Homo sapiens: one gene and its partners. The protein of the gene in region 5 purifies or fractionates together with the protein of the main gene of each other region. This does not show direct contact. Each region holds a gene or a part of one and is shown on either strand. Other genes may lie near its edges.

The links.
Region 1: the proteins of PALM2AKAP2 (region 5) and BCAR1 purify together in Homo sapiens (co-immunoprecipitation; one large-scale study listed by IntAct). This does not show direct contact.
Region 2: the proteins of PALM2AKAP2 (region 5) and TFG fractionate together in Homo sapiens (co-fractionation; one large-scale study listed by BioGRID). This does not show direct contact.
Region 3: the proteins of PALM2AKAP2 (region 5) and SART3 fractionate together in Homo sapiens (co-fractionation; one large-scale study listed by BioGRID). This does not show direct contact.
Region 4: the proteins of PALM2AKAP2 (region 5) and ATE1 purify together in Homo sapiens (affinity purification with mass spectrometry; one large-scale study listed by BioGRID and IntAct). This does not show direct contact.
Region 6: the proteins of PALM2AKAP2 (region 5) and AP3M1 purify together in Homo sapiens (affinity purification with mass spectrometry; 3 studies listed by BioGRID and IntAct, with this or other methods). This does not show direct contact.
Region 7: the proteins of PALM2AKAP2 (region 5) and KIF5B fractionate together in Homo sapiens (co-fractionation; one large-scale study listed by BioGRID). This does not show direct contact.

What each region holds. Positions count from the first base shown.
Region 1 is NC_000016.10:75,238,125-75,241,624, forward strand, and holds part of BCAR1 (breast cancer anti-estrogen resistance protein 1), read right to left. Parts: intron 537-3,500; exon of another isoform or gene 1-536. UniProt on the Homo sapiens protein: Docking protein which plays a central coordinating role for tyrosine kinase-based signaling related to cell adhesion. Implicated in induction of cell migration and cell branching. Involved in the BCAR3-mediated inhibition of TGFB signaling.
Region 2 is NC_000003.12:100,729,994-100,733,493, reverse strand, and holds part of TFG (protein TFG), read right to left. Parts: intron 987-3,500; coding exon 822-986; intron 1-821. UniProt on the Homo sapiens protein: Plays a role in the normal dynamic function of the endoplasmic reticulum (ER) and its associated microtubules. Required for secretory cargo traffic from the endoplasmic reticulum to the Golgi apparatus.
Region 3 is NC_000012.12:108,526,674-108,530,173, forward strand, and holds part of SART3 (spliceosome associated factor 3, U4/U6 recycling protein), read right to left. Parts: coding exon 3,469-3,500; intron 1-3,468. UniProt on the Homo sapiens protein: U6 snRNP-binding protein that functions as a recycling factor of the splicing machinery. Promotes the initial reassembly of U4 and U6 snRNPs following their ejection from the spliceosome during its maturation.
Region 4 is NC_000010.11:121,918,032-121,921,531, forward strand, and holds part of ATE1 (arginyl-tRNA--protein transferase 1), read right to left. Parts: intron 1-3,500. UniProt on the Homo sapiens protein: Involved in the post-translational conjugation of arginine to the N-terminal aspartate or glutamate of a protein. This arginylation is required for degradation of the protein via the ubiquitin pathway. Does not arginylate cysteine residues.
Region 5 is NC_000009.12:110,157,698-110,161,197, forward strand, and holds part of PALM2AKAP2 (PALM2-AKAP2 protein isoform 3 (PALM2-AKAP2)), read left to right. Parts: intron 1-3,500. UniProt on the Homo sapiens protein: Binds to regulatory subunit (RII) of protein kinase A. May be involved in establishing polarity in signaling systems or in integrating PKA-RII isoforms with downstream effectors to capture, amplify and focus diffuse, trans-cellular signals carried by cAMP.
Region 6 is NC_000010.11:74,144,329-74,147,828, forward strand, and holds part of AP3M1 (AP-3 complex subunit mu-1), read right to left. Parts: intron 1-3,500. UniProt on the Homo sapiens protein: Part of the AP-3 complex, an adaptor-related complex which is not clathrin-associated. The complex is associated with the Golgi region as well as more peripheral structures.
Region 7 is NC_000010.11:32,021,926-32,025,425, reverse strand, and holds part of KIF5B (kinesin-1 heavy chain), read left to right. Parts: intron 1-2,389; coding exon 2,390-2,578; intron 2,579-3,168; coding exon 3,169-3,286; intron 3,287-3,500. UniProt on the Homo sapiens protein: Microtubule-dependent motor required for normal distribution of mitochondria and lysosomes. Can induce formation of neurite-like membrane protrusions in non-neuronal cells in a ZFYVE27-dependent manner.

The DNA of each region.
Region 1 (3,500 bases), on a different chromosome or scaffold from region 5:
CAGTGGGTGAAGAGGCAGGCAGCACAATGGCCTGCCCAGGGCCACAGGACCCCTCACCAGCACCAGCCTGAAGCGGGTAGGGGCCATGCCAGGCAGCCTCCTTCCCTGAAGGTCTCCCTGCCTTGGGGAGGTCAAGGCCTCCCTGGTGGGATTCTCCAGCCCCCGGGCACACTGCGCCCACACGCCTCCACCACCAGGCTCCCTGTTCAGCTCTCTCCACTGAAAGACCTTTTGTTCCTTCATCAAAGGGGATGTCTGGGACAGGGTTGACTCAGGGCCTCCCCGCACATCCCCCAGGGCAGCAGCGCCAAAGCAGCCCCTCCCCCGGGCCCAGTGCCCCTGAACCCCTAGAGGCCCTCCCAATGCAGGCAGGCAGCCAGCCCTGCTTGCTGAGGGTGCTGTGAGGGGGGCGCTGAGCATGGGGGTGGCAGAGGCGCCAGCACCCCCCAGCAGCCGCAGGCCTGGCAGAGCCCCCCGCAGCGCAGCAGAACTGGGCCCACTAGGTCTCCAGCACGCCTGGTAGCAGAGTCCCGGCTGGGGGCCTCCGTGGGGTGTCCCCGCCCCCTTCCAGTGCGTCTGGGAGTGGATTTGGCGGCTGCCTCTCCAGACTCATCTCCCTCCACGCGCCCCAGACTTGAGTCTCCTCCAGAACTATTTTTAGATGCAGGGACCTGCCAACAGCGGGGCAGGCGGGGCGGAGGGACGTGGCAGGTTGGCTGGGCCTCGAGGCACGGCCTGAGGCTTCTCCAGGCCTCCCAGCCTCCCAAAGGCAGGTGGGGACCCAGCCTCAAGGCTCAGCCAGGACCCAGCACCAGCAGGAGGGATGAGCATCCTCCAAAAGCACCCTGCCGGTGGCCATCCCAACCTCACGCGGTGAGGCCCAGGGGTGCAGCTGGACCCAGGCCTGCCTCCCCAGGCAAATGGCCGCCTGCCACTCTTGGAGCTGAGTCGGGTGGCAGTAGGCAGCCACAGTGACCAAATGTTTCTGTTAGAAAAACAGAGCAACGCAGCCACCAGGGGGAAAAGCTCTTTAGGGGAATGACTCAGCCCCACTGCTAATCACAGGCCACCCTGCTGCACACCTGAGACCCCACTAGCAGGCCGTGGAGGTCCCCCGGGGGTTAGGGGAACACAGCCAGAGCCCAGGAGGAGAGAACAGAGGCACAGTCACTGACATAAGACCCACACGGTCTCTGACACACATGCCTCATACAATGCAGAGAAAACACAGCACAGGCCCACTGCCAGGTGCACGCACAGAACCCAGGCAGCCCCAGGGCCAGGGTGCCGCCCCTCTCCTCCCCTACTATCAGGCATCAAGCGGGGGGACAAGCGAACTCAGGAATACATCCCAGCCTCCCGGTAAGGGCCCCAGAGGCAGGTGTCAGGTCGGAGGAAGGGGACAAAGTGGGCCCCCGCCCTGGAGCTCAGTGGCTGGTCTCCCCCTTCTGCAAAATGGGTGTCGCCCCTGACCTGGGTTGGCTCCCGGCTCTGGCACCCCCAGGTCCCAATCCAGGAGCCTCGTTTCCTCCTTGGGAAATGGAGCACCACAGGAGCGCTGCGACCACGGCCACCAGGACACACCCCAGCATGAGGGGCTCACCCGACCTGGGTCATGGTGGCCTGAGGGGCCACCACCATAGCCCGCTCCCCTCCCTCCCCAGCTCCAGGCACCCCAGCCTGAGGTCCCAGCACAGGGGAGCCTGGGGCAAGATGAAGCTTCTAGGGCGAGGAGGGTGAAACACAGGCCCGACAGGACCACGTGCACGCCTGACCTCACGCCATGGCTGTCTCCTTAGACACTGACCAGGGGCACTACCTGAGCGACCTCCCACAGACGCCTTCCCCCGGGGGTCCCATCTGACCATGAAAGAGCCTCTGCCCTCAGATTCCTACAGCCCACACCCGGCCCAAAGAGTCTCGGTGCCAGTGTGGCCCTCACCTCTCCCTCAGCCATACGGGCCACCAGGCTCCCACCTTAGCAACCACTGGACCCTGCTCCAGGGCCCAGGGTTCTGACCCTCCTGGCCACCATCCTTGTCACTCACCCTCTTGGCTTCCTGAGAGCCAGTGTCCCTCCCGCCCACGTGAAGTCCTGGCAAGGGCTCCTTCTCAGCCCAGCCAACCACTACCCTGGAACTGGGAGACTCAGTTTCCCAGGCATTTGAGGGGCAGGCCTGAGGCTTGGAGGGGAGCACCTGGAGGTTCAGACACAGATGTCCCGCAGCCAGGTGTTACCGCCGTGCCACCGTAATGAAGGCATGAGCAATCGGAAACTGCCCAGGGCCCGCCCCAGCAGAGGGGGCAACCCAGCAAAGTCCAAGGCGGCTCAGGGACAAGCTTTAAGAATTCAACAAAATGCTTTTGATATCTAATGTTGGATTTACAACTTTGAAATGCAAAACTGCATGTATAAATCTGTGAAACACAGGGCAGATACTAGACAAAATATGCCAGAATTTCCCAGTGATTACCGCGATTGGAAAATTTCATCTCCAGACTTTCCCATACATTATGCATTTTCTACAGCAAACAAGCATTGCTTTTGTGATCATAAAATACAAGCAGACACAATCAAGACTGGGGGAGGTTTCCTGGGGGAGAGCAGCCAGGCCCAGGACACAGGGCTCTCCTTCCTGGGCCATCAGCCAGGTCAGGGCCCTTGGGGCACAGGTCTGGGCAGCTCTACCAGTGGGCATGGGCAGAGAAGGACCCAGCTGGCTGAGCCCCTGATGCAATTGAGAGCAGGCCCCCTGCCGGAGACGGAGACAGAACAGCTGCCAAAACACAGCCTCGAGGCCGGGCTCTGTCTGGGGGTCTCGCTGCTGCTCCCCAGCCCACAGGGCTTCCAGCCGCACCAGGACAAGCTTCACTGCAAAGGCGGGAGAGGAGGGGTGGGGATGTGCCTGACCTTGGGGCATGTGCAGTGTGGACTGTGTGTGCGTGTGCATACGCACATACATTTGTACGTTTGTGGGATACTGGTGGGTGCACACGCTTTGTATGTGTGGACGTACACGTGTCTGTGTGTGGGGTGAGTATGCACGTGTGTTTACACATATGGGGTTTGGGTGTGTGCGTGTTCATGCATATGATGTGCGCATGTGTGGGCGTATACGTGTGTCCATTTATGGGGTATGGGATGCAGATATGTGCATGTATTCACGCACATTCATGTAGCGCATGTGTGTGTTCGTGCATATGGTGTGTGCATGGGTGTTCGTATCTGTGGGGTACAGGCATCATGCACGTGTGTTCATCTGTGTGGGGTGTGGGTATACCTGGACTGTGGCCTGAGGCTCCCCTACAGGACACTGCTCCCTGCCGCCTCCCCAGGGGATAACAGGACCCTGCTCCTCTTGCTAAAGCCAGTTTGGGAGCACCCCCACCCAGGCACCCCACGCCAGCCAGGCTCGCCTCTGACCAGATGGCTGAAGGAGCAGGTAGAGCAGGAAGTGGGAGCCAGTGACCCAGGTTCCCCTGGTGGCCAGGCTTGGTGG
Region 2 (3,500 bases), on a different chromosome or scaffold from region 5:
CAATTAAAGGAAAATATAGACTTAATGAATGTAAAATAAAGAATCTCAACAGAAAAACAGAAACTATAAAAACCCAATGGAAATTCTAGAGCTGAAAGCACAATTAAACAATTCACTAGAAAGGTTCCACAGCATATTAGAAATCACAGCGACCTTGAAGAGTTCAACAGAAATCACCCAACCTGAAGAACAGAGAGAAGACTGAAGAAAAATGAACCTTAATGACCCATGAGACAGTATCAAGCTCTCCAATGTATGTGTTATTAGAATCCGAAAAGAGAAAAAGCAGGAAAAAATAATGAAGAAATTATAACCAAAAGTTAAACAGAATAAAACAATATAGGTACTGCTTTAAGGTTAAAAACTTATTTATATAAAAACCCACTGTATACTCAAGCAATTTAACAAGAAAATCTACATTTAATTTTCAATTTCTCTAAGATGAGGAGATAAGACAAATCAAATATAATTCGAATACTGCAACTAATCAAATTATAAAATAGTTCAGATTTTTAAAAACTTTCTAAATTTTACTTTCAAAAATTTACTTGAACCCAACAGTGCTTATTCTTTAAGGGGGAGGGTGCTACTCTTGGGGAGAGGACATAAGAAAGCTTTCTGAAGTGCTGGAAATCATCTACATCTTAATCTAGTTAGTCTTTTACATAAGTGTACACATATGTAAAAATTTGTTAAGCAGAACCCTTAAGATTTGTGCACTTCACCATATCCAAGTTATTCTTCAATTAAAGAAAGAAGGAAAGGGAAGAACGGAAAGATGAAGGAAACGAAGGGTGTAAAGGAGTTGGAAACCAACTTACCTGAAACCTGATCATCTGTTAAGCCAAACGCTGACATAACATTTTTATTGATTTCATCTTGGTTTTTTAAAGGATCAAAAGCAGACATACTTGCTGCCATAACCTGAGTAGACTGTTTTCCAGAAGAATCAGAAGCAGACTTTTCTTCCCTACCATCCACAGTATCTGTAAAAATAGAGGAATAAACAAAAACTTGTTTCCTTTTTATCTATATTCAGTAAGGCCTAAAAGTACAAGGGAAATAATGCAGGTGTATAATGATAGTCTGGAATGTTAAGCATGTCGGAATATAGGATTACAGATCATTTTAATTCCTTTATTTTTTTTATATTTTTCCTTCTAGTAACAGGGAGAAGAGGGCAAAAAGAAACAGAAGATGAACAAAAGCTTTCCAAAAAAATTATTTACCTCCTTTTGTAAGAAACATTAGATGAAAAAAATACAAGCTCCTTGATAAAGAGAAACATTTTACTTTTTTTGGTTTTTTTGGAGCCCAATAACCTATATCCTAGTATCAGATACCCACTGGGCACTCTGGAAATAATAATTATAGGAACTAAGGCTTTATTTTATAAAAAGAAACTGAACTAAGGTTATAATCTCAAATTTTACATTTTATTTCTACTGTCTACTGGTCCACTATTAAATTACATGGAAATCAAGCCAACCATAATTAATTCATAATCTTCCATAAATAGCACATTAAAAACATTTTTGAATTTGCTACCTTCTATTTTAATATGTATTACTTATTAAAATACTTATTAAAATGCTTACAGATGAAATGATGTATATGGGATCTGCATCAAAATAATACAGGAGGGGAGCCGGGTGCAACAGCTCATGCCTGTAATTCCAGCACTTTGAGAGGCCGAGGTGGGTAGATCACTTGAGGTCAGGAGCTCGAGACCAGCCTGGCAAAACCCAATCTCTACCAAAAATACAAAAATTAGCTAGGCACAGTGATGCATGCCTGTAATCCCAGCTACTCAGGAGGCTGAGTCACGAGAATCACTTGAACCCAGGAGGCAAAGTTTGTAGTGAGCTGAGATTGTACTCCACTCTGGGTAACAGGAGGGGCGGAAATGTGTATAGTGTAATTATATGATACTATAAGTTGGTAACTGTTGAAACTGGATGTGGGTTTCTGGGATTCATTATAATGTCTACTTTCTTATATACTTAAACTTTTCTATAATAAAATGTTTAAAACAACAACAGAAAAACAAAATGTCAAATATTATGAGCAGGTTAAATTTAAAATCATGCTTTTCTTCTCAGGATACTAAGATATTCCACAGGCATTTATACTACTGTCTTGTGAAAGAAAAAGAGTTCAAGAATTTTAACATACATTTTACAAATAGGAATCCAAGTCCAAGATACAAAAGACATCAAAAGAAACAAACAAAAAACACGAACAAGTAAACAAAAAGACTGTTGCTAACCATTTACTCAATTAAGGGACAATGATTATCACTTTTGTTACCAAGCAAGTAAATGAACATCAGTTCTTAGATCACCCCTGTAATCAATACAAAATGTATCTTCTGAAAAAAATGTTAAGTGCTAAACCGAATATAAGTACCCACAGCACACACTGGCTGGCAGCTCATTCATTCCTAACATACCATTCCAGGCTACCCTAATATTTTCTAAATGTTTGGAAAAAGAAAACTACTACTAGAAGTATTCCTTTAAAACATGTCTACCAGTTATCTATCTTCCCTACCAACTTCCTTCCTCTAATCCCAAGAGCATACCACGTCAGTCTTACAAGTTGTTTCCCCTCACATCTCACTACCTATGCCTCTTTTCACTTATCACAAACTAAAACCATCAGGAAACATACTATACGTCCTACTACTTGCTCCATTAGCTGCTGGAGATACTGCAACAGGTCAATCTTCTATCTAAGGTAGTTTACACATCATTTGCCTCTTAAAGGAAAACAAGCATCCAAGAACCGCTGTAATAGAGAGCTGAAGACCACAGGTGGCCACATTTCTTGGTGAGGGTAAGCCACAGGTTCTAAATAGCACTGATAGCTGATTGGCAATTTCATTTTGTGGACTAGATTTCAGTTTCTGATGTATGGTTTTCTTGTTGTTTTTGTTTTCTAAAAAAATAAGAACTATCTCTAAAAATATAATGCAGATTGTATTATTCTTATATCATCTTATCATCAGATATGTCAGACAGGACACAATAACTAGAAAATGGCCATACAAGAAAACAACATATGGCATGATTTCCAAAATGCAGAGAAGAAACCAATTTTAACACCTTTTACATTAACATAGGTAAAAAGCTAACAGTATGTATAAAAAATATAGACACAAAGAATAAAGTATAAACAGTAGCAAGAAAGAGGTGAGGAAAAAGTTTCACCTAAAGCAAAAAACTCATAAATCCATTCCTTAGAGTAGAATGTGGGCCACTGTAGCTAATTTCTGAACAGTATTGGCTATACTGGTTAAATTCTCATCTACACTTCTTAATATTCTGCAGATGGTTAAATCCCCTGAAATTATATGCAAATGTTGTGTCAGCATCTATGAATTCTTCTGGAAAAATTGTCTAACTTTTTCATTGATTCTTGATCTAAAATTGGAAATTTTTGTTTGGAGAGGTAGGGCTCAGAATAGGCAACCTTCTTTGACCTGAAATATAAAAGGT
Region 3 (3,500 bases), on a different chromosome or scaffold from region 5:
ACTCGGAGGGGCAAGCACCACCCCGAGAAGTCTTTTGTGATCCGCCTGACCTGTCCCACGACTTTCTGTGCCCCAATTACACTCGGGTAAGTGGGCTCAATCAAGTGGAAGTAATAACATAAATCCCCATTGTCCACTCTTAATTATACAAAAGGTCAGTGGATCTCAAAGTTCAGAAGGCAAATTCCAGGGCCCCTCTCCTACAAAGCCCAGATCAGCAGGGTTGGGATAGGACATGAGAATCTGCACTGGAAAAGCACCCTAGTGACTGATACCCGTGCCCCAGGGAGCACATTTTGGAAAGCACTACAAAGGATCTGTGGTTTCTAAAACACTTTCAATATGGCCTTGTGTCCTTAAGAGAGCTTAACCACAATCTTCTACTGCAGTCTGTCCTCACCACTGCCTCCAGAGGGCCAGTACTGAAGCTCAACAGACATCAGCCTCCGGCAAACAGACCTCCCCATCAGTTCACCCGCTGCCTTTCCAATGCAACGTAAGCCCTGCACACTGCTACTGTATTCAAGAGTGTCCCTGGGCTGGGTCCAGCTGACTGGCCCACCTACCACTCCAGCCTCCTCGACCACTGCCCCACCCCTCTCTAATGCATCTGAGTTCAAACCCAATTATCTGCTGCTCACAGAAAATGCCAGGCTGTGCTGTGCCTTCAGGCTGTACTAACATTGGCTCCTCCCTGTGTAGCTCAGACCTTCCCTTCTCGCTGCCACAGTCACTCGGTCTTCCCCCTGGATGCCGCATCTCTTCCCCCACAGTCTTCCTGGTACGAAGTTGACCCACTAGTGCCTTCTTTGGCCTCCACCAGTATTAACAATGCCATCTCCCACAGTCCTGATCACACGCCATGCCCTGATCACACACCACTGCGGTCACACATCACATTTGCCTTATTCTGCCAAACTGGGAGGCCAGTGGAGCAATGAGCCATCCTCAGTCATTTAGGAAAGCCCAAACAAGGTGTGCAAGCAAGGTCAACTCAACGATGGATGACTCCATTCCCAGTTCTCTCTGGCTCACACATCTGTATTAAGAAAGTATACAGAGTCCTTTCAAGTCCAGAGACAATTCTTTTTTTTGTTTTGTTTTGTTTTTGAGACAGTGTCTTGCTCTCTCTCCCAGGCTGGAGTGCAACGGCATGATCTCTACTCATTGCAACCTCTGCCTCCCGGGCTCAAGTAATTCTCCTGTCTCAGCCTCCCGAGTAGCTGGGAAAACAGGCACCCGCCACCACAGCCAACTAATTTTTGTATTTTTAGTAGAGGCAGGTTTTCACCATGTTGGCCAGGTTGATCTTGACCCCTGACCTCAGGTGATCCGCCCACCTCAGCCTCCCAGAGTGCTGGGATTACAGGCATGAGCTACCGCGCCCAGCCACCAGAGACAATTCTTTACCTTGACTGACTCTCTGAAATAAATATGACCCAGAGCTGCCCGTCCCTGAAATTACAAGGGTGAAAGAAACACTGCTGGAAAATTCCACTAAGTCAGAACCATTAAAAGCAGGGCCAAGGCCAGGTGCAGTGTCTCATGCCTGTAATAACAGCACTTTGGGAGGCCAAGGCGGGAGGATCACTTGAGGTCAGGAGTTCAAGACCAGCCTGGCTAACATGGTGAAACCCCGTCTCTACTAAAATACAAAAATTAGCTGGGCATGGTGGCTGGCAAAGTGTAATCCCAGCTACTTGGAAGGCTGAAGGAAGAGAATCACTTGAACCCAGGAGGCGGAGGTTGCAGTGAGCCGAGATCACGCAACTGCACTCCAGCCTGGGCGACAGAGCGAGACTCCCTCTCAAAAAAAAAAAAAAAAAAAAGTAGGGCCAAGCCTGGCAGGTCTGTGCAGGGTTGGGGCTGCAGCAGTGGTGCGGGATGCTAGAGCCTGAATGGAAGGAAGAAGACAGGCAGGCATGGGGCAGTGACAGGGACCCAGCAGCCTAGATCTGGAAGCCTGAGTGAAAGAAGCAAGGGTGTCCATGCAGGGCCGTGCCTGGCCCCGGGTGTGGGAGACCAAACAGGGTGGGGATGGCACATATGAGAAGGGGAGGCAGGCACAGGAAGTTGATTACATACCTACAGGGGCCGGGTGGAGTAACTGAGGATGCTGAGAATAGAGGGAGCCAAGTTTCTCAAGGTCAGAGAAGGGCGTGACACAGCTGGGCACAGTGGCTCACACCTGTAATCCCAGCACTTTGGGAGGCCGAGGCAGACAGATCACTTGAGGCCACAAGTTCAAGACCAGCCTGGCCAACATGGCGAAACCTGATCTCTACTAAAAATACAAAAAATTAGCCAGGTATGATGGTGCATGCCTGTAATCCCAGCTACTTGAGAGGCTGAGGCACAAGAATCACTTGAACCCGGGAAGCGGAGGTTGAAGTGAGCCAAGATCACCCCACTGCACTCCAGCCTGGGCAACAAAGCGAGACTCTGTCTCAAAAATAAATGAATAAATAAATTTTAAAAAGAGAGAGAAGGGCATTGCAAGTGTGAAGGGGAACCCTGTGGTGTTAGACCGGAACTGGAGGTATTGGTGTGAAATCATGACTTTCAGTATATACAAATAGTTACACAAGTAAATATGGTCATAAATATGTGTACACATGCACACGCACACGCACACACACACACACTCCCTACCCTCGACCACTCAGGCCTCAGAACAATAACCAACAGCAGTGAGCACAACTAGCACCTTCTAAATACCACTCATCACTCAAAGGAACCTTGGAGAAATGATGGATTCCAGGGCTGAGTTATGGAAAGTATAAGATGACCCTTGGGTATTGTGTGCTAGAAGGTAAGGAAATGATCAAAGAACAAGGGGACAGGTCAAAGGGACATAGAAGCCTGTGTGAAGGAACTCTTGCTAGCCAAACCTGGGATAAGTAGAGAATCAGCATAAATAATTCTCAAAAGGGTCATCACCAGTGATGGAACAAAGCGAATCACAGTCCACCTGATGGGACTCAATGGGCAGGCCACAGGAGCACTTGTGCACTATTCCTGCCCGAGATGCATGAGTGGAATCCAATGCTTAGGGAGCATCAGACACACCCAGGCTGAGGGGCACAACACAGCAACTGGCCTGCCCCCTTACAAGACTGCAGGTCATCAGAGTAAAAAAAAAAAGCTGAGGAGTGCTCCAGACTCAAGGAGATCCAGGAGACAGGACAACTAAACACAATAGTGCATCCTGAACCGGATCCTTTCACTACAAAGGACATTATCAGGATAAATGGGAACCCATAGCTCATTGCTAACCCCGGCTCTGATGGCTGCATTCTAGTCATGTAGAAGAGGGCCCCTTGTTTGCAAGACATACACCCTAACAGTGATCAAAGGGTAATGGGTATCAAGCTGGTAACGGTTCAGGGAAGAAAGTTCTTCATACTGTATTCGCAACTTCTCTAACTTTAAGACGTTTCAAAACACAATTTCTCAAGAGCTCCTTACCTTCTTCATCATCGCCCCACTCTTTCTCATCA
Region 4 (3,500 bases), on a different chromosome or scaffold from region 5:
ACTCCATAAAAAGATGATGTGGCTGGGCCCAGTGGCTCAACGCCTGTAATCCCAGCACTTTGGGAGGCCAAGGCAGGCGGATCATGAGGTCAGGAGTTCCAGACCAACCTGGCCAATATGGTGAAACCCCGTCTCTACTAAAAATACAAAAATTAGCAGGGCATGGTGGCATGCGCCTGTAGTCCCAGCTACTCAGGAGGCTGAGGCAGAAGAATCACTTGAACCTGGGAGGCGGAGGTTTCAGTGAGCAGAGATCGCGCCACTGCACTCCAGCCTGGGAGACTAAACAAGATTCTGTCTCAAAAAAAAAAAAAAAAGATGATGTATAATGAATTACAAAGAGACGCAATTCAGGAAACATTTGATGCCACGTAAAATGCAAAAATCACATAACTACTTTATTTTGCAATGTTAATGAATCCCCTTTTATAAAGGCAATATGCTTAGAATAGTGCTTTCCATGTAACAGGCACCAAATACAATTTAGATTCTTTTTTCTTTAACCAATCGAAATCACCCTTTTCTGATCACAGATTAAGCCAATCAACTTCAAACTTATGAATAGAATCCTGTCCATAATCCAATAAATTGCTAATTGAAGACAAATGACTTCTGCCTTAGAAGATACCTTCTCTTTATAACCACGAAAACTGAAAGAGGACAGCACAGGATACTCTGTCATTCTATTCTTTGTGTAATGACACAGTGTCAGCAAACCAGACCCCATTTTTCTCATCCTCTGCCAATCCAACGGCCAGCTGGACTTCTGGGTCGGGGCGGGGGTGGGGGGGACGTGAAGAACTTTTCTTACAAGAGGATTGTAAAATGCACCAATCAGCTCTCTGTAGCTAGGATTGTAAAACGCCCCAATCGGCGCTCTGTAGCTAGCTAGAGGATTGTAAAACGCACCAATCAGTGCTCTGTGGCTAGAGGTTTGTAAAATGGACCAATCAGCACTCTATAAAATGGACCAATCAGCACTCTATAAAATGGACCAATCAGCACTCTGTAAAATGGACCAATCAGCAGGACATGGGCAGGGACAAATAAGGGAATAAAAGCTGGCCACCCTACCCAGCAGTGGCAACCCACTAGGGTCCCCTTCCACACTGTGGAAGGTTTGTTCTTTCACACTTCACAATAAATCTTGCTGCTGCTCATTCTTTGGGTCTGCGTCACATTTAAGAGCTGTAACACTCACTGCGAAGGTCTGCGGCTTCATTCTTGAAGTGAGCGAGACCAAGAACCCACCAGAAGGAACCAACTCCAGATACACCAGCACTTTGGGGGGCTGAAGCGGGCAGATCACCTGAGGTCAGGAGTTCGAGACCAGCTTGGCCAACATGGTGAAACCCATCTCTACTAAAAATATCAAAAAAATTAGCCAGGTGTGGTGGTGCACGCCTGTAATCCCAGCTAGTCGGGAGGCTGAGGCAGGAGAATCGCTTGAACACGGGAGGCAGAGGTTGCAGTGAGCCGAGATAGCACCACTGCACTCCAGCCTGGGCGACAGCAAGACTCCATCTCAAAAAAAAAGCTCCTAATCAAGTATCAGTGAACCTTTGGGAGTCTGCGATCATTCTAAAATTAACACGCAAAATGTGCTGGGCATGGTGGCTCACGCCTGAAATCCCAGCACTTTGAGGTGGGTAGATCACGAGTTCGAGAGTAGCGCGGCCAACATGGTGAAACCCCGTCTCTACTAAAAACACAAAAATTAACCAGGCCTAGCGGTGGGCATCTGTAGTCCCGGATACTCAGGTGGCTAAGGCAAGAGCACTGCTAGAACCCAGGAGGCGGACACTGCAGTGAGCTGAGATCACACCACTGCACTCCAGCCTGGGTGACACAGCAAGACTCAGTCTCGGTGGGGAGGATATGCAAAATGTTACATATTTTTGTCTACATCCCTTTGGGCAGGAGGCCAGCTCTCATCGACTTCTCAAAATGGTTTGCAACCCAAAAACAAGTTAAGAGCAACCAAGGGAGACAGCTTTGAGGACCAAACAAAAAAACTAATGGACAAAAAACTGTTTAATTTTTTAATTTTTCATTTCTTAAAGTAAAACTGTCTTTTAATTTTATGAGTATATATACACATTGAAATTGGGGGCAAATACATGCTTCAAAATGTTAACGCACTTTTCACATTTTCTATCAAAAAAAAAGGTTCAGGTGCAGTAGTAGCTCACACCTATAATCCCAGCACTTTGGGAGGCTGAGGCAGGAGGCTCCTTTGAGCCTAGAAGTTGGAGATCAGCCTAGGAAACATGGCGAGATCAGCCTAGGAAACATGGTGAGATCTGCCTAGGAAACATGGCAAGACCCCTTTTCTATAAAAAAAAATGTAATTTGCCAGGCCTGGTGGTGTGTACCTACAGTCCCAGCTACTTGGGAGGCTGAGGTGGGAGGATTACTTGAGCCTGGCAGGCAGGCTGCAGTGAGCCATGGTTGTGCTACTGCATTCCAGCCTGAGCAAGACCCTGTCTCAAAAAAAAAAAGAAAAAAGAAGAAAAAGATGATGATGACCTTATAACCAGAATAAGAGAGAAGATTTTTCTATGTTAGGGTGAGGTGAGAAGGTACATGGAAAATCCAAAAGATTATGAAAAAATCCAACGAAGACTTTGTAGGAAAATAGACTTTGGTTTAAGTTTCCCATTTAAGAAAACTGGACTCTGGGCCAGGTGCAGTGGCTCACGCCTGTAATATCAGCACTTTGGGAGGCTGAGGCAGGTGGATCATGAGGTCAGGAGTTCAAGACCAGCCTGGCCAACATAGTGAAACCCCATCTCTACTAAAAATACAAAAAATTAGCCGGGCGTGGTGGCAGGCACCTGTAATCCCAGCTACTCGGGAGGCTGAGGCAGGAGAATCACTTGAACCCAGGAGGCAGAGGTTGCAGTGAGCCGAGATCGCGCCATTGCACTCCAGCCCAGGCGACAGTGCGAGACTCCGTCTCTTTAAAAAAAAAAAAAAAAAACTGGACTCTAAGTGTAAGTGGCAGATTAAATTTAAGCCCTCTTCCTTCCAATTAATTTTTTTTTCAACTTTTATTTTAGATTCAGGGGGTATAGGTACAGGCTGGTGACCTGGATATATTGCATGATGCTGAGGTTTGCAATATGGATGATCCCACCACCCAGGTACTGATCGTCATACCAAGTTGGTTTTTCAACCCTTAGCTCACGCCCTCCCTCCTCCTCTAGTAGTCTCCAGCTTCTACTTTTGCCATCTTTATGTCTGAGTACCCAAGGTTTAGCTCCCACTTATAAGTGAGTGAGGTGGGAAATTAAAGAAAAATAAAATTAAAAAGAAAGATAAATAAGCTTTCCTGTATTAGGCCGACTTGTCCCAGAGGCAGCAACAGGCACGGCCCAGACCCAGGAAAAGCCTTGATAATATTATCTAGTGTGCTCTGGAGATTCTCCCAGCACTCAACATGCAGAGAAGAAAAAATAAATTTTCCTTTGTTTTACGGAATGAGTTCATAGATTCCT
Region 5 (3,500 bases):
CCTGCCTTTCACTCTTGAAAGTGTCCCAGTTTGGGTGATAAACCATCTGGTCACCTTAAACTTGAATGCTATGAAGTTCACAGTAAGAATTCCCTGCTGTTTTATTGCCTTTTATATCCTAGCTGGCTAAGTTAAAGGATTTCTGGAGTTGAAGCCCAGATGCTGAAAGTTGCTTTCAAAATATATGGCGGTAAAGAAAGGAAGAAAGCAAATGGATATCTGGCAGCCTGGCTTCTCACTTGGCATCTCCCAGGCTTTCCCTTTTGTTTACACCTGAACTGCGTGGAGCACTGGCTCAGCTGCTGTATTAGGCTGCAGCTATTCTACTGGGCTCTTCACTGTATTAGACAGTGGGATGATGCCCGGCCCTGGGTAGCTGCTGCAGACATTTCCACTGCTGAACCTCACTGTAGGGGAGCCAGCAGCTCCTTTCGTGAGCCTGCAGGATTTTTCCCTGGCTACTCAGTCACTTTCACCAGCCCTTCTTTGAAGCCCCACTTCAAAGGATAAAGTTTGCCTTAAGAATTTTCTGAAAGTTAAATCATTTTGAAACTTGGTGCTCTAGGTGTCTGGTTTCTTTTCTCCCAGTGACTCTGCTCTATACATCAGCAGTTTTGGTAGAATTTAGCCAAGTGGGTGCCCCACACTCTGATGTGGATGGGGAAGAACAAGTAGAACCACTTAGCATGTGACCCACGCGAGTGTTTGCTGAACACACTCTACTTGTCACTTGTGTATGTCTTTTGTGTTGGAGTGCAGATGATAGGGAAAAATACTCCATACAGAAGGGTAGAGGCAGTTCTCACTCATTTCGTAAAGGCAGAGGGCTGGAAGCTCTTTTGTGCACACGCTGACACTCTGGCAGCCACCTAACAAATGCCAACCAGGTTGAGTTTTTCCTCTGCATGAATGAAGCTGCTTGGAATCAGCGTTTTAATATGCTGATTGCCCTTCACTTACAAATCAAAGAGGCAGCCTCCTGTCTCTATATTTTCCAGTAAATAAACATTTTGAAAAAGAAAGAGACCTAACTAATTAAGCTGTTAATATCCCTGGATCTTGGATTCAAAGCCAAATGTTTTGCACTGTTATTGCTATTACAACAGAACCAAGTTTGCTGTTGTTGAAAATTCTTAGGATCAGGACAAAATCTACCAATCCACTATATGCTCATTTAAGAGACCCAAATCTAAAACAACAAATTCAGATTGCTTCTAAAGCAAAGATATGATCATCAGTCAGGCTTCAAATGAGAGCCTTCTCCTAGCCCTTCCAATTTAGGGGACCTTTTCTCCTGTATCTGTGTCAATCACTGGTGAATGTGTTGAAGTTTACCTGTAGGGATGAACAAACATTCATTTTTTTCCTAACCAATCTGTGGCCCCTTTTCCATTTTTTCTTTTTCTTTAATACCAGAAGGATAGTAATAGAGAGCAGATGGATTGCTGGGGGGATGAGTTGTGTAACTGGCTTACCTATCCGTAGAAGCATAAAGTTAATTCTCTTAAAGGTAAAGTAATTCTGGTCTCTAGCCTCCATTTACATACACTATTCTCACAGAGAAACATGGCTTCTTAGACTCTCCACCCTCTAAGCACCTCAGTGGCTCACACCTACACACCCAGCATCTCCCCATGTTATGCAGCATCACCCCTGGCACCTCCATTTGCCAATATTTTTTCCAGTAAGCCACTTGGCAGCATTTTGGCATGCCGTTTTGGAGATGATAAACCACACCTGAGAATCAATGCCTGTCGCGTGATTAGAACACAACCATGTGTTTGCCCATCGAAAGTAACAGTTATTTGTGAATTGAGCAAAAATAATTCTTATTTTTTATTCTTTTTAAGGAGAAGGCAGAGTTAAAAACAAGACAGGCGCTGATCATTGGAATGTGTATAAAGTGTGATATGTTAGACACAATGGTATCGAGGAGAGTGAAAGACAGAAGGAGAAAGATAGAATGTAGCTACGGCTGAAGTTTTGCTGAGTGAGAAAAACTGATCTTTGCCATCAAAACAAGTTCAGTGTCCCCCGAGCCCCCATCAGGGGTGTGGTGGCCTCTGGGGTCCTGTCCACAGGGACTCAGCTCAGGGCCCTGCTCTCTCCAGTTTTCCACTTTATAAAAAGTCATATGCAGAGAGGCCCCTGGCTTATGGGAGTCAGGGAGTGGTGTTATCCAAAGGTTGTCCCCAACCAGCCATATTTGTTACTAGCTCAGAACTTGAGCAAAGTACTCCCTTTAGTTGCCACAGTCTTCACCCACCTGGGCTGATTTCTTTGTCCTGTATATTGGAGTCACCAATGAGTATCTCCAGCCTCACTTATTAATGGACCTCTTGGCTAATTCTGAGGGCAGGAGGATTACCATCCCCACCCCTACCCACTTACCCAAGGCTGTTTACCAACCTATGCAAGGCCTTTGTGTGAATTAGGAAAAAAAACCACCCTTGTTCCTCTATGAAGATATGAAGATGCAGCCCTGCACCAGCCACACATTTGGGGGGTAGAGTAGGGGACTGGGCTTTAGTACCATTCATCCCTTTAGTCTGATGCTTTTGTGCAGTGCACACAACACACACCCAGATGCAGCAATCCTATTCATATTGTGGGTTTCTCTTATCTGGAAATGTTCTCTTATGTGGAAATGTCCACTTATCTGGGTCTCATACCATTTCTGCTCAGTCATGCAATTCATAATGGACTAGTGAATCCTAGTTTCCTAAAGGGCTTCTTGATGCCTTGCAAAGCGACTGCCTCCAAGGTGGGGTTGCCCACTCATGGACCTGGAAGACATTTGGATCAGTGGGCACAAATGATGGGCTATTTGGATGTTTTTCCTTCAGGCATGAAGAACCCCTCTAGGAAACTCTGATTCATTAGTCCATCCTGAGTGACATGACTGTATTTAGGCAAACAGTATTTTTCCAGCCAATTGTTTCCCTAACCTGACCTGAGCCTCAGAAAGTGAAGATGATGGGTCATTGAGTCAATGATGCTCATGAACATCTCGAGGGTTTGCTTTGCCTTTCTCAGTTGAAGGGATGCTGACCAGAGTCCAAATCACAGCCTCCTGGATGTTCAGCCCCATCTTTACTTTTAGCGCAGGATCTGCCCTCAGTGGGGTTTTCCAGTGTGCTCTCTCTCTCTTTCTCATCCCATGACTTCATTACTGAGAGGTCATCCAACCACTCTGTCTCATCTTAGAACAAGAGAAGACCTCGTCGGTTTTCCTGGGCTACGTCAAAGCTGAGAGTTCCTGGCACACATTACCCTTCCAGACCAGGACATGCATTGAGAGTTGTGGCCATACTCTCGCTCAGTGTGTGAAGGAAGCCTATCTGCCTCCTGTTTCCCCAGACGCTACAGGAAGCTCAGTGATGCCTTGTGCTTCCCTAACTCTCTCTTACGTTCTCACTCGTACCCTAGTGAAGATGCAAAGGAGAGAGAAGAGCTCCTGACTTGTCAGCTCCCAGCCATTAGCCCAATCATGACAGAAC
Region 6 (3,500 bases), on a different chromosome or scaffold from region 5:
ATCTTGGCTCACTCCAACGCCCACCTCCAGAGCCCAAGCGATCCTCCCACTTCAGTCTCCTGAGTAGCTGGGCTTACAGGCGTGCATCACCACACACAGCTGAGTTTCAAATTTTTGTTTTGTAGAGACAAAGTCTGCCTATATTGCCCAGGCTGATCCTGGACTCCTGGGCTCAAGTGATCTTCCCACCTTGATCTCCCAAAGTTCTGGGATTACAGGTGTGAGCCACCAAGCCTAGCCTGAAGTTTTAATTTTAATTAATTTAAATTTAAATAACCATATATGGTTAGTAGTTAATATATTGAACAGTGCATGAATGTGCTGCTTTAGCTTATGATTTTTTTTTTTTTTTGAGACGGAGTCTTGCTCTATTGCCCAGGCTGGAGTGCAATGGCACGATTTCCTCTTACCACAACCTCCGCCTGCTGGGTTCAAGCGATTCTCCTGCCTCAGCCTCCCGAGTAGCTAGGATTACAGGCATGCGCCACCATGCCCAGCTAATTTTTTGTATTTTTAGTAGAGATGGGGTTTCACCATGTTGGCCAGGCTGGTCTCGAACTCCTGACCTCGTGATCCGCCCGCCTCAGCCTCCCAAAGTGCTGAGATTACAGGCATGAGCCACTGCACCCAGCCTAGCTTATGATTTAAGAGGAGGAGGTAAAAGACATTTCTTGTTTAGTTAGGAGGCAAAAGACATTCTAGTTGTTATGCTGAGGAAGTTTAATAAATTATTTAGAGTGGAAGTTATATTTAAAAGCACCGACACAGGTTATCTAAAATCATTCATCCTATCGAAAATATAGTTCACAAGGATTTATAGTGCTCCTTTGCCACAATACACTCTGAAAGAGTTGCTTGTTTTGAAAGTAAGTGATTTTGTAGTTACTTTATTTTAGGGCCAGATCTCTACTCATCCTCTTAAGCTGGTGAAAAATTCTTTCCAGGAAAGTTTCCACCGAAGTTGTTTTTATTGGCAGTAGTTCAGGTCTCAGAATACAGAAAGTTAAACCAGCCTCCTAGATTTATTGTTGTTATCCTTAGTGCTGAGATGAAAGCATAACACTTGTAAGTTCTCGACTGTGCTTAGCTTTAAAACCCATCTTAACCTTCTATAATAGGAAAAGAGAGCTTACTTCTTCTATCCATATTATGACCAAGGTCTAATGCATATAACAATTAAATAATACCATGTTGCAGTGTAAATTAGCCTGTTTCTTTATTTATCGTCCTTTTGGTAGCTGCAGTTATTTTTTTAATTATTATTTTCATAAACTTTCTGAGAAAACTACACACTCATTATTACCACAACCATCTTTTTGTTCCTAGTGGCTTTTGAGTCATAAAACAGAATTCTCCCAGCTTATTTAAAAGCCACTAGAAGAAACTGTGTTCAGAGGCAGACCCACCAGAGCTTTGACTGCAGCTTAAATACATCATAAATCCTTTTTACTAAACATTTTATAATCATCCTGGGTAATTCACAAGCAATGCATTTACAATAGTCAAAATATTCTTGGAAGACAGTGTCTAAAAACAAAAATGTATTCCTTCTATATATAATATGATGGAGGCACAGAAGGGCCTATACTGAACTTGAGAGAATGAGACCAGAAAAGCATCTACTCTTCTGATTCTCAGCCAATATCTTGACCACATATTCATTCAACACAGAGTTTTGAGGCACTGGGTATATAAGAACAAACAAAATTAGAGTTCCTATACTCACAGCATTTAGAGATGAGCAGAGAAGACAACTTAATACAGTTAAGATGTAATTCCTACGATGATACAGGAAATATAGTGTGCTGTGGGAATCTACAAGGCTTAGAGGTGAGAGAGAACACAAGACAAATAAATCCAGTATAAATTTAGCAAATATGGAAGGTGGAGGGAAGAGGGGAGATGAAACTGGACAAGGAGGTAAGCAGAGACTGATTGGTTCATGGAGCATGCTAAACTTGTTAAGGAGTTTGGACTTTATTCTTAGTGCAATGTAAAGTCATTTTATAATTTTTTTAATTAATCATGCAATCCGATTTACATTTTTAGAAAGATCATACTAATTACACTGCGGAAACTGGATAATCGGTAACTGAACACTGTGACACCAGTTGGGAGATGAGTGGTGATGGCCTGGTCTAGAGTCTTGACTATGAGGATGGGGTACAGTGAAAAGATAAGAGAAACATTTAGGTTTTGTGCTAAAAAACATTTAGGCTTGGAGGAGGGGGTGTGTGGAGATGAGAGAGATGTGTCACTTGGCCTGGTCCTGTGTAATTTGACCAATTCTGGATACATCTGACCCAAATAAATATATTCAAAAAACTATTATATATACCCTTCTGGTGCTTTAGAGAAGCCAGATTGGAATCAGAATTGTAAGTAATCAGGATTTTTTGTTAATGGGAATTAATCAAAAGGAGAATTGAAACAAAAGAAAGAATGTGCATAGTATGAAGAGAGCTTATGGCAGGAACTCCAACATTTGAGTAGGAGGTGGGTCAAGGAAGTGGACCTAAAGAATGACCAAGATGTGACTGAAGAGTCCTAAGAAAAAAAAAAAAACAGGGTGGTTTTTAGTAACTATAGCTTATTAGTGTATTTCCAGAAGAATGGAGTGGTAAATACTGTTACATGGCACAAAGAGGTTAAGCTACGAGAATTGAAAATGTCAGCTGGGCGTGGTGCTCACACCTATAATCCCAGCACTTTGGGAGGCCAAAGTGGGAGTATCACCTGAGCTCGGGAGTTCGAGACCAGCCTGGCCAACATGGTGAAATCCCATCTCCACTAAAAATACCAACAAATTAGCTGGGTGTGGTGGTGGGTGCCTGTAATCCCGGCTGCTCTGGAGGCTGAGGCAGGAGAATCGCTTGAACCCGGGAGGTGGAGGCTGCAGTGAGCCGAGATGGCGCCACTGCACTCTAGCCTGGATGACAGAGCGAGACTCCATCTCAACAACAACAAAAAAGAATTGAAAATGTCTGTTGATTTAAGAGTGTTTTTTAAACTTTCTTTTCCTTAATGCCTGCTAAGGAGCCCTTTTAGACTCCATCTTCTCACCACCCTGCCAATCAAATTCCTCACCCATAAAACTTTTTATTATTCTTTCTTTTTCAACTGTAAATTGACAAATTATAGTTGTATATATTTAGGGGTACCAGATGTTATGATTTATGAAATGTGGAATAATTAAATGAAGCTAATTAATATCACCATAAAATTTTAATACCACAGAATATTCTCTGTTTATGTATTGTATTTGTGCTTTACACATAAAAAGAGTATTATATTTTTTTCACCTCACAAGAAGCAGTTTTTATCTGCTTTGAGAATGCATGATTTAACACACAGAGGACACTGGTGATCTTGGTAAAGGTAGTTTTGGTGGGCTGGGTGCGGTGGCTCACACCTGTAATCCCAGCACTTTGGGAGGCTGAGGCGGGCAGATCACGAGGTCAGGAGTTCGAGACCAGCCTGGCCAACATGGCGAAACCCTG
Region 7 (3,500 bases), on a different chromosome or scaffold from region 5:
CCTTCCTAGGTGACAGAGTGAGACTCTGTCTCCAAAAAAAATAATAATAATTCATGTGTAAGTTATTCTTTGGACATAAATTTTCAGTTCAGTTGAGTAAAAATACCTAGAAGTGCTAGGTTGTACGTTATGACTATGTTAGCTTTGTAAGGAACTCCCAAATGGTCTTCCAAAGTGGTGGAAACATTTTGCATTCCTATCAGCCATGAATGAGAGTCTGCTGTTCCACATCATTGCCAGTGTTTGCTCTTGTCAGTTTCTTGGGATTTTACTAATGTATGGTGTTATTTTATTGTCATTTTAATTTGCAGTTGTGTTTTTTCTTATTGTTGAGGTTTTCTTTTTCTTTGAGACGGAGTCTCGCTCTGTCACCCAGGCTGGAGTGCAGTGGCGTGATTTTGGCCCACCATAACCTCCGCCTCCTGGGTTCAAGTGATTCTTCTGCCTCAGCCTGCCAAATAGCTGGGAACACAGGCGCGTACCACCACGCCTGGTTAATTTTTATATTTTTAGTAGAGATGGGATTTCACCATATTGTCCAGGCTGGTTTCGAACTCCTGACTACAGGTGGTCCGCCTGCCTCAGCCTCCCAAAGTGCTGGTACTACAGGCATGAGCCACTGCGCCTGGCCCTGTTGTTGAGTTTTGTTTTGTTTTATTTTGAGATGGAGTCTCGCTCTGTCGCCTAGGTTGGAGTGCAGTGGCATGATCTCGGCTCACTGCAAGCTCCTCTTCCTGGGTTCAAGCAATTCTTCTGCCTCAGCCTCCCGAGTAGCTGGGACTACAGGCTCCCACTACCACACCTGGCTAATTTTTTGTATTTTTAGTAGCAACTGGGTTTCGCCATATTGGCCAGGCTGGTCTTGAACTCCTGACCTCAGGTGATCTGCCCGCGTCAGCCTCCCAAATTGCTGGGATTACAGGCGTGAGCCACCGTACCTGGCCTCCTATTGTTGAGTTTTAAGAGTTCTTCGGCCGGGCGCGGTGGCTCACGCCTGTAATCCCAGCACTTTGGGAGGCCGAGGCGGGCGGATCACGAGGTCAGGAGATCAAGACCATCCTGGCTAAAACGGTGAAACCCCGTCTCTACTAAAAATACAAAAAATTAGCCGGGCGTAGTGGCGGGCGCCTGTAGTCCCAGCTACTTGGGAGGCTGAGGCAGGAGAATGGCGTGAACCCGGGAGGCGGAGCTTGCAGTGAGCCGAGATCCCGCCACTGCACTCCAGCCTGGGCGACAGAGCGAGACTCCGTCTCAAAAAAAAAAAAAAAAAAAAAAAAAAGAGTTCTTCATATGTTTTGGATATAAGTCTTTTATCAGATAGTGTTTTGCATTATTTCTCTGTGTCTTGTTTTTTTTTTTTTGTTTTTTTTTTTTACTCTCAACGTCATTTTTTGAGACTAAAAATTTTTAATTTTAATGAGGTCCAACTTACCAAGTTTTACATTAATAGATTGTGTTTTTGGTATTGTATTTAAAAACTTGTCACCAAACCCAATATCACCTAGATTTTCTCCTGTGTTAAAAGTTTTTTTTTCAGTTTTGCATTTACATTTAGATCTATGATCCATTTGGAGTTAATTTTTCTGAAAGGGGTAAGGTGTGTACCAGGATTCATTGTTTCACATCTGGATGTCCAGTTGAAGAGACTGTCCTCCCTCCATTAAATTGCCTTTGCACCTTTGTCAGAGATCAGTTGACTGTATTTTGTGGTTTTATTCCTGGGCTCTTTATTCTGTTCTGTTAACCTGTTTATCTGTTCTTTGCCAGCACTGTACTGTTTTGATTATTATAGCTTTACAGTAAGTTGCATAGTGTCAAGTCCTGTGACTTTGTTTGTCCTTAGTGTTGTGCTAGCTATTCAGGGTCTTTTGACTTTACATGTAAACTTAATCATGTCATCTGCACAGTTTTATTTCTTCCTGAAGGTGAAGGAATATACAGTGACCACAATTCCTTCTGGTTGAGCTTAAAGTTCATCCTTTCCCTGCCACCTAAACATCCTCTTGTTAAATTTTAAGCTGAACGTGCACATGATTAACAATGAATTTACTGAAGAGGTCCTGTAAAGAGGAAGTGAAAAAATTGAAAGAGGCAGAATTTATTAGTTTGGTTGTATTTTTGTGTTTTCTTTAGGTTTACATTTATTTATTTTTCTTGTTGGCATGTATTAACATTATTCTCAGTTTTTAAAAAAAGGAAGGCAAAAAGTAAGCTGTATTTATTTACCTTTCGTTGAAAACAGTAATAAAAGAAAAAAATAAGATCCAGACTTTGTATGAATATTGAGTAATACTAAAATATATTTTATAAAAAGATTTTATAGCCTAATTGGGAAAACACACATTGAACATTTTTGGCTTTAATTTTTTATTTTACTTTTTCCTTACAGCAGCCTGAGGGAACTGGCATGATAGATGAAGAGTTCACTGTTGCAAGACTCTACATTAGCAAAATGAAGTCAGAAGTAAAAACCATGGTGAAACGTTGCAAGCAGTTAGAAAGCACACAAACTGAGAGCAACAAAAAAATGGAAGAAAATGAAAAGGAGTTAGCAGCATGTCAGCTTCGTATCTCTCAAGTATGTTATAGAACAAAGTTTATTCATTTTTTTGAAACAGCCACATAGAAATTTTATTTATTATACAAGTTTTCAGAAAAATGTGTGTCTATAGGTGAAATTTAGTTGTTTTTTTCCTAGTCTAGCTGCAGTAAATTTGAATGATTTAACTGAGTTATATTTGCCTAACATAAATATGGGTTATGTATAGAAATTTACCAGAATGATGTGACTGGTGGTAACTTGTTAAAGACTTCAGAATTCCAGGGTGGGCAAAACTGCAGGGAACCAGTTTCCTGGCTTGGCAACTGAATGAATGGGGCCATTCACCACTATCAGAATTTCACAAGGAGGGAAGATGGTAACGTTAGATGGTGGTATCTGTAAAATTAGTATTTCATATTTGAGTCTTCAGTGCCTTAGTTTGCAAGTTATGATCACCAATGAATTAATTGATTACATTCTTTAACATTTCAAAATTGGCTCCTGAATATTTTAGTTTTAAATATTCCCAAATTTATCATATATAGATAATGAAATGTTTACTGTCAAATATTCTTAAAGTGTATGCATATGTTTTCCACTTCATATCAGTATATTTTTTCCAAAAGCATGAAGCCAAAATCAAGTCATTGACTGAATACCTTCAAAATGTGGAACAAAAGAAAAGACAGTTGGAGGAATCTGTCGATGCCCTCAGTGAAGAACTAGTCCAGCTTCGAGCACAAGGTATAGCTTCCAACTGTTTATGAGTTACATCTGTGTTCTTATTTTAGTATAATTGTAGTAAACTTAATATTCACACTGAAAGAAATAGTAGGAATATGGCTGATTTCGAATGGTAAACAAATCATACATATTAATGTTGCTTTGAAACATTTTTTTGTTGTTGTTTTGAGACGGCGTCTTCACTCTGTTGCCCAGGCTGGAGTGCAGTGGCACT